Regions from separate parts of the Homo sapiens genome. Here region 2 is linked to region 1. Evidence: fine-mapped expression QTL. A gene starts in region 1. The other region holds a variant in brackets. All regions are shown on one strand. Distances are from middle to middle.

Evidence for each region. PIP is the estimated chance that this variant, and not a neighbour inherited with it, causes the effect. A credible set is the group of variants that fine-mapping cannot tell apart.
Region 2: its variant is the best candidate, but not a certain one, in a credible set for the expression of OR2L13 in prefrontal cortex (CommonMind, PIP 0.62).

Annotation. Positions count from the first base shown.
Region 1 is chr1:248,092,046-248,097,437 of GRCh38, forward strand. OR2L13 (olfactory receptor family 2 subfamily L member 13) reads left to right here and starts at 3,139. Exons shown (of 3, transcript NM_001395936.1): 1 at 3,139-3,209. LOC105373275 (a long non-coding RNA gene) reads right to left here and starts at 3,497. Exons shown (of 4, transcript XR_949369.3): 1 at 3,359-3,497.
Region 2 is chr1:247,946,723-247,952,114 of GRCh38, forward strand. OR2L8 (olfactory receptor family 2 subfamily L member 8) reads left to right here and starts at 2,136. Exons shown (of 1, transcript NM_001001963.1): 1 at 2,136-3,074. The coding sequence starts at 2,136. The coding sequence ends at 3,074. It also overlaps a transcript of OR2L13 not described here. The variant C/T (reference allele first, on the strand shown) is at 2,747.

The DNA.
Region 1 (5,392 bases):
TAGGATTGAGCTCCTGATTTGGCTCTTACCTTGGCTGCTATTGGTGTATAGAAATGACACTGACTTTTGTACATTGATTTTGTATGCTGAAACTTTGCTGAAGTTATTTATCAAATCAGGGAGCTTTTGGACAGAGACTATGGGGTTTTCCAGATATAGAATGGTATCATCTATAAAGAGAGATATGTTGACTTCCTTCCTTCCTGTTTAAATGCTTTTCATTTTTCACTCTTGCCTAATTGCTCTGGCTAAGACTTCCTACATAATACATATTAATACTTAATGTGTATGTACCTAACAACATAATGTCAAAATAGATGAGGCAAAAACATATAGGACAACAAAAGAGAAATACATAAATCTGCAATTAAAGTTGGATATTCAGCACCCCTCTGTTAGTAACTGATACATCCAGAGGCAGGAAAACAGTAAGAATATAACTGAACAGCACCATCAACCAACTGGATCTATTTCACATCTGTGGACTACTCCATTCAACAACATTAGAATACACACTCATCAAAGTACACCACATTCTGGTCTATAAAACAGACTTTCACAAATTATACCTGCCTCACAGTCTTCTTAGAAGGGTTACACTGGTTAAACCAAAACTTTATTGTCACTAAGAAATTGTAAAGAATCTCTAAACTCATTATAAGCTCCCAGGCTTCATGGAGACACCATCACAGAGTAATTCATTACATCCTGGATTTTTTTTAATTGATCGCACCTACTGAAACCCCTTGTCTATAATATCCATCACCGCTCCAACTTGTTAATGAGTAACTTCCATCTCTGCAGAAAGAAAAAGATGCTCAATCTTTGGTCAGAGCCTCCAAGGAGTATGATTGAATCTTTGACAGCCATATTTTCCTCTAAAGAATTTATGTTTCTGTGCAGATGAAGATGGAAATGGAAATGTAAAAAGGAGATGCTGAGAGGGGCTGAGCCTTGTGCAAAAGTAGAGAGTGGGTTTAGGCAGGAGCACGGTCATTTCATACGCTGTCACAGGAAACAAGGCTGAGTATATGGTACAGAATGAGGGAGGCTGATACAGTTCATGGAAGAAAAGTTTGAAATCTGATTGTTTTATTAACAGGTTTGTTTATTTTTCCCAGAGGAGTCTAAGAGATGTGGAAGTGGGGTAAGGTTTGGGGAAAGCAGGAGGAGGCATGGATCACTACTTTTCAGAGAAAGTCTGCAGAGAACAAGAACATACTGTGACGTGGCAAAAGGGCCATGAGATTTGTATTCATAAATCTGAGATGTATTGTCATAAATTTGAGGTGAGATGCATCATCATATATTGGACTTTCCTCAAGTCACGTTTCATTGCTGTGTATGGATCTTACAGGGACGGTAACAGGCTGAGAATGAGTTTTACCTGGGTTTGAGTTTTGCACTGAGTTAAATGCAAGCAGCACCACATTGCAGCAGGGAAAAACATAGAAGTTACCAAAGACTAACAAGAGCAATAAAAAATCTGTATGTGATCATAACTGGTCCACTCTTCTTATTTAAAGCACTAGAATGGCTTTGTCCAGTTTCGTACTTCATCGTATTTGCATCCAGTATTTATTGAGTCTCATCTCATCATCTCCTAGGACAAAGGGTGCCAAGATAATTCAAGAATCCAGCATTACTTTAGTTCCGGTTCCATCCATGTTGTTGCAAATGAAAGGAATTCACTCTTATTTTTTTTTATGGTTGAATAGTGTTCTATGTATCTAGTAAATTTTCATTATCCATTATATTACATGAAATAAGCCAGGCACAGAAAGACAAACTTTGAGCATTCTTGCTCATATGTGGGAGCTAAAATTAAAAAATAATAAATATAGTAGAATGACTGTTACCAGAGGCTCGGCAGAGTAGAGTAGAGTGGGGAATAAACTGGAGATGATTAATGGGCTCAAAAATACAGTTAGGATGAATAAGACTTAGAATGTAGTAGCACAACAGGATGACTATAGTTAACAATAATTTATTGTATATTTCAAAATAACTAAAAGTGGAATTGGAACATTTCTAACAGAAAAAATTAATAAATGCTTGAGGTAATAGGTACCCCAAATACCCTTATTTGCTCATTACACATTGAATGCCTGTATTGAAACATCACATGTACCTCATGAATATATGCAACCATTAGATAATCATAATAATTCTAAAAAATTAAAGGAAAAAAACAAAGAACATGGATATTAATTTTATAGCATTATTTCTAATTTCTGACATAAAATATAGCAGTTAGTGCCTTCAAAGATAAAAAAAGAACAATATAACCCCAAATAAAGTGTTCTTTTCTAGTTAACCAATGTATGGATTAAAGAGGTTAAGAGATGCTACAGTTGATTGAGCCCTTCCTCTGCAACAGACACTATGTAAACATTTGGCATACATCATTCTATTTAATTATTAGAATGTCCCTCAAATTAGTCCAGTTGTAAAGATTAGTAACAGGCTGAAATCTTAAGTAATTTTCCCAACTCAGCTTCCTAATTAGTGGCATAGCTGTCAGACTAGAGTATTCTCTCTGACTCTAAATGCTCATTTTATCACATTGTCTCTAAGAGTCAGCTTTCACTTTAGTAGAATAGCTAAATGGATATATATTGTCATGTATCAATTATCTACCCCCACCTAACAAGTAGAAGGAAGTGTTTTATCCTAGTATAATTTAATTTAGTCACAATCATCAATCATTCCCCCTGGAAACTCACTAAAGAGTGGACAGGAAACTATCCTTGGGACTAGTTCTGCTATTACTGAGTCGAGTACTTGTAAGTGGTTCCTGCACTTTTTTAATCCGGAATTCTCTAACTTACATGATGACAGAATTTCCATAAACATAATTTAACATCTTCTATAGCTCTGAAATCATGTACTGGAATATTAAATACACCCCTCTTTAGTCTGATTCTGGGTAGCAGCTGAATGCAGCAAAGTTGATTGGGTTGGTTGATTTGCTTTAAGTTCAGAATTTGAGTTCATCCCCAAATCAGCAAAGTCAAGTGAAGTGACCAAGGTTTTGGCCCCCGTGGACTTGGACACTGGAGATCAATTAGAGGAGAAAGAGGAATATCTAAGGGTTGGTGACTTAAGGTTCTGTGTGTAAAATATAGCCATTCATCCTTCTGTCTTCCAATGGTGGAACCTGAGAGACTTCAGTGTAAAATGCCTTATTCTGTTCTCACTGAAACAAGGTAAGAGGAAAGGAAGAGACTTTATCTAAACACTGCATATGCAAACAGGATAATATTTCACAAGAGCTGGTGAAGTTGTTTTCTGATTTCACCATAAAGACAATGACTAGCTGTGGGAGCTGTAAGGAATGAATATTATAAAGTGTTACCTGGTGTTTCTTCCTCATGAATTTTGGCAGATAAAGAAGAGATTCTCACTTCAGAAAGAGTTTTGGTTTAATGCAGAGCCTATTGATCAGTGATATAATGTTATTGATAGCCTGATATACTATCAGAACATAGTTTGATGCTTACATGTTTTAAATAATTATATGGAATGTTTGCAGATTATGATGTCACTGTAAAGCTGCTGCTTTTTTTTTTTTTTTTTGAGATGGAGTCTCACTATGTCACCCAGGCTGGAGTGCAGGGTCACGATCTCAGCTCACTGCAACTTCTGCCTCCCAGGTTCAAGTGATTCTTCTGCCTCAGCCTCCCGAGTGGATGGGATCACAGGCGCATGCCACCACGCCTGGCTAATTTTTGTGTTTTTAGTAGAGATGGGGTGTCACCATATTGGTCAGGCTGGTCCCGAACTCCTGACCTCGTGATCCGCCCGCCTTGGCCTCCCAAAGTGCTGGGCTTACAGACCTGAGCCACTGCGCCTGGCCATAAAACTGCTTTTTATACCACTATATAAACTGAAGAACTTCGGGCAAAGTGAGTCATAGTAATATAACTGAATTGAGTTGATTTGGGTCGGCTTTATCCTAGAAAGCTTTTTTGGAAATGTTTTCCTATCATCAGGAAACTCTCTGCTGCACAGGGAATAGACAGTTCCATAACAAATTGAAAAAGAAGGCTGGGCACCCAGGTGGCTCATGCCTGTAATCCCAGCACTTTGGGAGGCCGAGGTGGGCAGATCACGAGGTCAGGAGATCGAGACCATCCTGGCTAACACAGTGAAACCCGGTCTCTACTGAAAATACAAAAATAAAAATTAGCCGGGCGTGGTGGTGGGCGCCTGTAGTCCCAGCTACTGGGGAGGCTGAGGCAGGAGAAGGGCGTGAACCCGGGAGGCGGAGCTTGCAGTGAGCCAAGATCAGGCCACTGCACTCCAGCCTGGGCGACACAGTGAGACTCTGTCTCAAAAAAAAAAAAAATGAAAACCAAGAGTGAACTAAAAATGTAAAAAAAGGTAACATGAACTTGTTAGAGTTGCACTATGTGCAGCTCTCAAACAATGTGACATTAATAAAAACATTTTCTCAGGGCGTGAGGGCTCTCCATGGTTAACACAGGGAATGGGCAAAGGACAGTGACAATTACTAAGGACCTACTATGTGCTGAACACACAGAACTGTGAATTCTCTTTATAGTTGTCCTATACGTTGTTGAGATTGAGGGAGCTGAGTCTATGACTATTTGCTATTGGTCTCCTGCTGATTGTTTAAAAGAGTTTTAAGAAGCATTCACTAATTGTAATTTTGCAAAATAAATTCAGGACCCTACACTTGCTACACTTACATTGTTAGTTTCTGTGAAATGAGGTGTTTTTTAACTCTATAAATTTCAGCAACGTATCTTTTAGAATGAGAAAGAAAATAAACTTTTTATCTGAGGAATAAGTAGCCCCCTTTAAATTATCAGGCCCAGCAAGATTGAAATGTGGCCGCAGTCACATCTCACTCTTTCTTGAGCTAGGTAATCATCTCTTGAATCTACGTGCTATGGGGGCTCTGGACTGACTTGTGGCAACTAACCATGAATTAACCTATCAATCCCCTAAACCACATATCCTATAGTTAAATAATGCATAACCAATCACTGATCAATGTTGTTTCTGAAACCAGTGAGACTTGCTGATAAATAACTTTAGAATTTGTCTCCACTCCTGATTCCTCCCTTTCTTTACCTTAAAAACTTGGGTCTCTTCTTGTTCTCCAGGTTACTTGCCACAGAAGTGTTTCTGGGCTGCAGCCCTCAACCTTGGCCCAAATAAACTTTCTGTATTAATTTTGCCTTAGTGTCGTTCTTTAAGTCAACAAGGATGGCCAAGGCAGTCACTAATCTCACACTCACCTGATAGCCACAGGAACAACATTTTCCCAGCTATAAGGTAACCGACAGAATGATGCTTCATGTAATTCTGGTGCATGAAATAAGGTCCCATGTCTAACAAGGAAAGCTGCTGGACATCAATG
Region 2 (5,392 bases), 150 kb before region 1:
CTGCTCCCTCCTCCATAATCACCCCCAGGTTCCTTACCCTTCTCCCATTGTCACAGCAGAATTACATTCCACTTTATGTCTGCAATGAGGGGTTGACAACATCATTTCATCTTACAGAATTTATTGCTGCAATACAAAAAAAAACTATTGCATTTGAACATGATAGTTAATATATTTCAGTTGAGAGAAATTTTTTTAAGAATACTAACTTCACTATTATTTTGCTATATCCCTTTCTAGGAATGTCCTTAAGCACATATTGGTCCTCCTGTATGAATCCCCTCATTTTTCTATCTTCCCTAAATAGCAGTCTTTTCATGTGGTTATTGCTTTTGTTTACCTTCAAATAGAGTTTTCTTACTTTGTCTTTTGAAACTTCCGCTTAATATTTTTATCAATTAATACAATTTTAGTTTTCAAAAGTTCTTTAATGTTACGTGTCACATCCTTTCATATAGCAAATGATATTTATTTTATGGATTTCATAACAGATCATACATCTCTGAAGAAAGGAATTTTGATCACAAAAAACTATTCTTTCTGCATATTTTAATCATTTTAAAGTCAGTGTATTTATGCATATGACTGTGTGTGATTGTGCATATTTGTGTGTGTTTGCACACTGGGAATCTTCCTCGTACATGTTGTTATACTTGCTCCAAATTCTGGTGATCTTTGGCTCTAGACTAATATTTAAGCCTAAAAACTCTGGTTCTTTTAGGCTTACTGTGCAAAGCTGTTTACTGATGTCTTACATCTGGAGTGGAATTTCTAACACACCTCTACCTAGAAGTCTGTCAGAATTTTAGTTTCTTTTTTTTATTTAGGCAATTGCATGCTCCTCCAAGTGCATTCTTTTGAAGGATCCATAAAGCAATGTGTAATGTTATCTAATCACTAGAGAAGCAAAAGACAAAATCTGTAACATATTTGGTAAGGGGTCTGCTTTAAATAGAGTATTCTGAAATTAGGCGAGGAGGCCAAAGAGAATGGATGATGATGAATATTGAAAATCAAGAGTGTGGATTAATATGACTTTCCGTAAAAGGGACATAGCAATAAGGATTTATTCTAGGTTTCTAAATAGGAGGACCAAATTATAACTGACAAAAGAAGTTTGACTTGGCATTATTGCACAAAGATCATTCAAGTTTCTCAAAATGAGAGACAAGCTGCTGCAGTTTTAGAAGTAAATCTGACAGAATAAACATGGGTTGGGTGGGGAGCTGTTGCCTGCAATCACAGCACTTTGCAAGGCCGAGACAGGAGGATTACTGAGGCCGAGGGTTCAAAACCAGCCTGAGAAACACAGTGACACTTCATGTCTACAAAAGTATAAAGTTAACTAGGCATTGTGGCACGTGGCTGTAGTCGCAGCTACTCAGGAGGCTGAGGCAGGAGGATCACTTGAGCCCAGAAGTTCAAGGCTGCAGTGAGCTATGATCTTGCCACTGCACTCCAGCCTGGGTAACAGAGAGAGACCCTGTCACTTAAAAAAAAAGAAAAAGAATAAGTGTGGAAATATAACAGATCATTCTATAAAGGTAAGACTAATTTATTCAAATATAAATCTGTAATGTATGCATTTATAGTGACTTTCTATGCATAGGTATTCAGTATAATATTTGACTTTGAATGTATCTGAGTTTGCGTCAGGCAGTAAACCATTCATATTCTATTGAAGTTGTAATAGAGGTATCTTTCTTATAAATTTACATATTTCTCAGAAAAAAACTAGTAACAAATGTTGATCTCATCAAATGTGAAACTCTGGGTAAGAAAATAAGATTTCTTTTTTCAAAATAGGTAAAAATCAGAACAAAGAAGTCTGAGTACAGTACAATAAAAGATTTTGAGAAAGATAGAGATCATATTCACATATTTATAGTATACTGTATAATTGTTCTATTTTATTATCAGTTACTCTTGTTAATCTCTTACTTGTCTAATTTATTAATTAAACTTTATCAGAAGTATGTATAGACAAAAATAATAGTGTATTTAGGGTTCAGTATCAACTGCAGTTTCAAACATCCACTGGGGGGGCTTGGAATGCATCCCCTGCAGATAAGGGCGAATTACTGTACGTAAATTACTCTTGTGTCTCCCTTCCGAATGGATTGTAGGAATGCTCCATGGAAAATTACAATCAAACATCAACTGATTTCATCTTATTGGGGCTGTTTCCACCATCAAGAATTGACCTTTTCTTCTTCATTCTCATTGTTTTCATTTTCCTGATGGCTCTAATTGGAAACCTGTCCATGATTCTTCTCATCTTCTTGGACACCCATCTCCACACACCCATGTATTTCCTACTGAGTCAGCTCTCCCTCATTGACCTAAATTACATCTCCACCATTGTTCCTAAGATGGCATCTGATTTTCTGCATGGAAACAAGTCTATCTCCTTCACTGGGTGTGGGATTCAGAGTTTCTTCTTCTTGGCATTAGGAGGTGCAGAAGCACTACTTTTGGCATCTATGGCCTATGATCGTTACATTGCTATTTGCTTTCCTCTCCACTATCTCATCCGCATGAGCAAAAGAGTGTGTGTGCTGATGATAACAGGGTCTTGGATCATAGGCTCGATCAATGCTTGTGCTCACACTGTATATGTACTCCATATTCCTTATTGCCGATCCAGGGCCATCAATCATTTCTTCTGTGATGTCCCAGCAATGGTGACTCTGGCCTGCATGGACACCTGGGTCTATGAGGGCACAGTGTTTTTGAGTGCCACCAT[C/T]TTTCTCGTGTTTCCCTTCATTGGTATTTCATGTTCCTATGGCCAGGTTCTCTTTGCTGTCTACCACATGAAATCTGCAGAAGGGAGGAAGAAAGCCTATTTGACCTGCAGCACCCACCTCACTGTAGTAACTTTCTACTATGCACCTTTTGTCTACACTTATCTACGTCCAAGATCCCTGCGATCTCCAACAGAGGACAAGGTTCTGGCTGTCTTCTACACCATCCTCACCCCAATGCTCAACCCCATCATCTATAGCCTGAGGAACAAGGAGGTGATGGGGGCCCTGACACGAGTGAGTCAGAGAATCTGCTCTGTGAAAATGTAGAAACACTTTCTGCCTAAGGTCTCAGGACTCAGATACACATCCATTCAGCAGTGTATAGTAATTAAAATATTATGTCCTTCCTAGAGTGCAGGACTAAAACTAACCAACGGAAGAAGAAAATCACTGATATATGGACAAAATTGTTTTACAAATATATATATAATTCTAAGAAACCTTTTTTCTTGATGGCCTTTTTCCAAAAATTTTGAAAGTACATATTTTTGCTAATATGTTGTCAATAAGAATTTTTTTTTTGGTCATGCAGAAATGAAAATGAAAATGGCCTAACTGAAGTTGGCACTCAGCATAACAATTTTATTATTGTCAATTTATTTTCCAGTAATTAAAATTTTTTTTTGGTTATGTCTAAAACAAAACCAAAAATCTCTTGACTTGGTGGATCTAATTGAAAGCCATAAGATGTTTTCTGTTTCTTATCTTAGACACTTAACGTACCAGTTACTCTTTCTTTCAATTTAGGGGGACTTATTATTACTGAGATTTAGCAGAAGGCTCATCAGTGGTTCTTAAGTCCTGATACCACTCTGGATGGCCTGTGACAAGTTTATGCTTTCTGTAGTGGAATGAATCCCAGGGAAATGATTTAACATCAGGTAAATTTTAGATCAACAACAAGTATTGGAAGATGCCATCAGTGATCAAGAATGATTACACTTAGGTCTTTAACCCATTTTATGTTGATTTTGGTATAGTGTAAGAATTGGGAGTTTAGTTTCATTTTTCTGCATATGGATATCCAGTTTTACAAGCACCTTATATTGAAGAGACTGTCAGTTTCCCAATAAATGTTCTTGGCATTGTTGTCAGATATCATTTAACTATGTCAGGCACAGAAAGACAGATTTTGCATGTTCTCACTCCTACCTAGGACCTAAAAATTTTAAAAATTGAGCTAATAGAAATAGATAATAGACTGGTGGTCACCAGAGGATCGGAAGGGTATAGGGGAGGGGGGATAAAGTGGGGACGGTTAATGGTTGTAAAAATATAGATAGCACGAATAAGAGCCAGTATGTGGTAGCACAACAGAGTGACTGTAGCAAACAATAATTCATTGTAGAATATATTGTATATATTAAAAAATAACTGAAAGTTTGGAATTGGAATGTTCCCAACAGAGAGAAATGATACATATTTGGGGTGCTGGTTATCCCAATTACCCTGATTTGATCATTACACATTGTACGTGTTTTTCAAAACATCACATACACTCTATAATTACATATTACTATTATGTATCCATAGTGATTAAAAATAAAAAATTAAATCAGTTAGCTAGAGATACGTGGATTTATTGCTGAATTCTCTGTTCTGTGTCATTGTTCTATGCATCTGTTTTTATGCCAGTACTATTCTGTTTTGATTACTACATCTTTGTAGTATAGTTTGAAGTTTGCTACTGTTATGCTTCCAGCTTTGCTCTTTTTTTCAGGATTGATTTGGCTGTTTGGGGTCTTTCATAGTTCATACAAATCTTAGAATTGTTTTTACTATTTATGTGCAGATGTCATTGGTATTTTGACAGACATTGCATTGAATCTGAGGTTTGGTCATTTAAATAATAATAATTCTTCCAATCCACAAGCATTGGATGTCTTTCGATTTGTTTGTATTCTTCTTCATTTCCTTTCATCAGTATTTTGTAGAAATAAATTCTATTGTTCTCTTCTATGACTAAAGTTAACAGTAAAGTATTACATAGTTAAAATTCTTGAAATGCTCTTTAACATCATTTCTATTTCTAAGCCTGTGGATATTTGTTTTGCAATGTTGTTGCAGTTAAAACACACATTTTGAACTTGTCTTATGAATCAGAGTAAGTCCTTTTTGTGTTTTGCTGCAATGAGCAGTGTATATTTTTATTTTGTAATAGTTTGCTAACAATGTTTACTGCTAATCTTCCTGGCTTTTTCTTTTCTGATATTCAATGAATACAACAGGCGTGGGCTCTGGGACAGAGGGAAAATAGGCATCCCATCAGCAGTCACTTGCTGCTGCCAGGGCAAGCACCTCCTCTCTTCCAAGCTAGGGACACTTGGACCCTACTGCCACCTGCACTGCTGCTTCTGTCATCACCATCAATATGAGCCCAGGCATACCCCAGACACTGCTTGGGTCCTGTGGTGCTGTGAAGTATTACAAGATGTGTGTGTGTTTGTGTGTGTGTGTGTGTGTGCGCGCGTGCGCGCATGAGAAGACCAGGCCAATTGCCCCATGTGGTTGTTGCCTGAGCCCACTTGTGTAGTCACTACCAGTGGACCCAAACTGCGTGCTAACACTGCCAGCCTGTCTAGCTC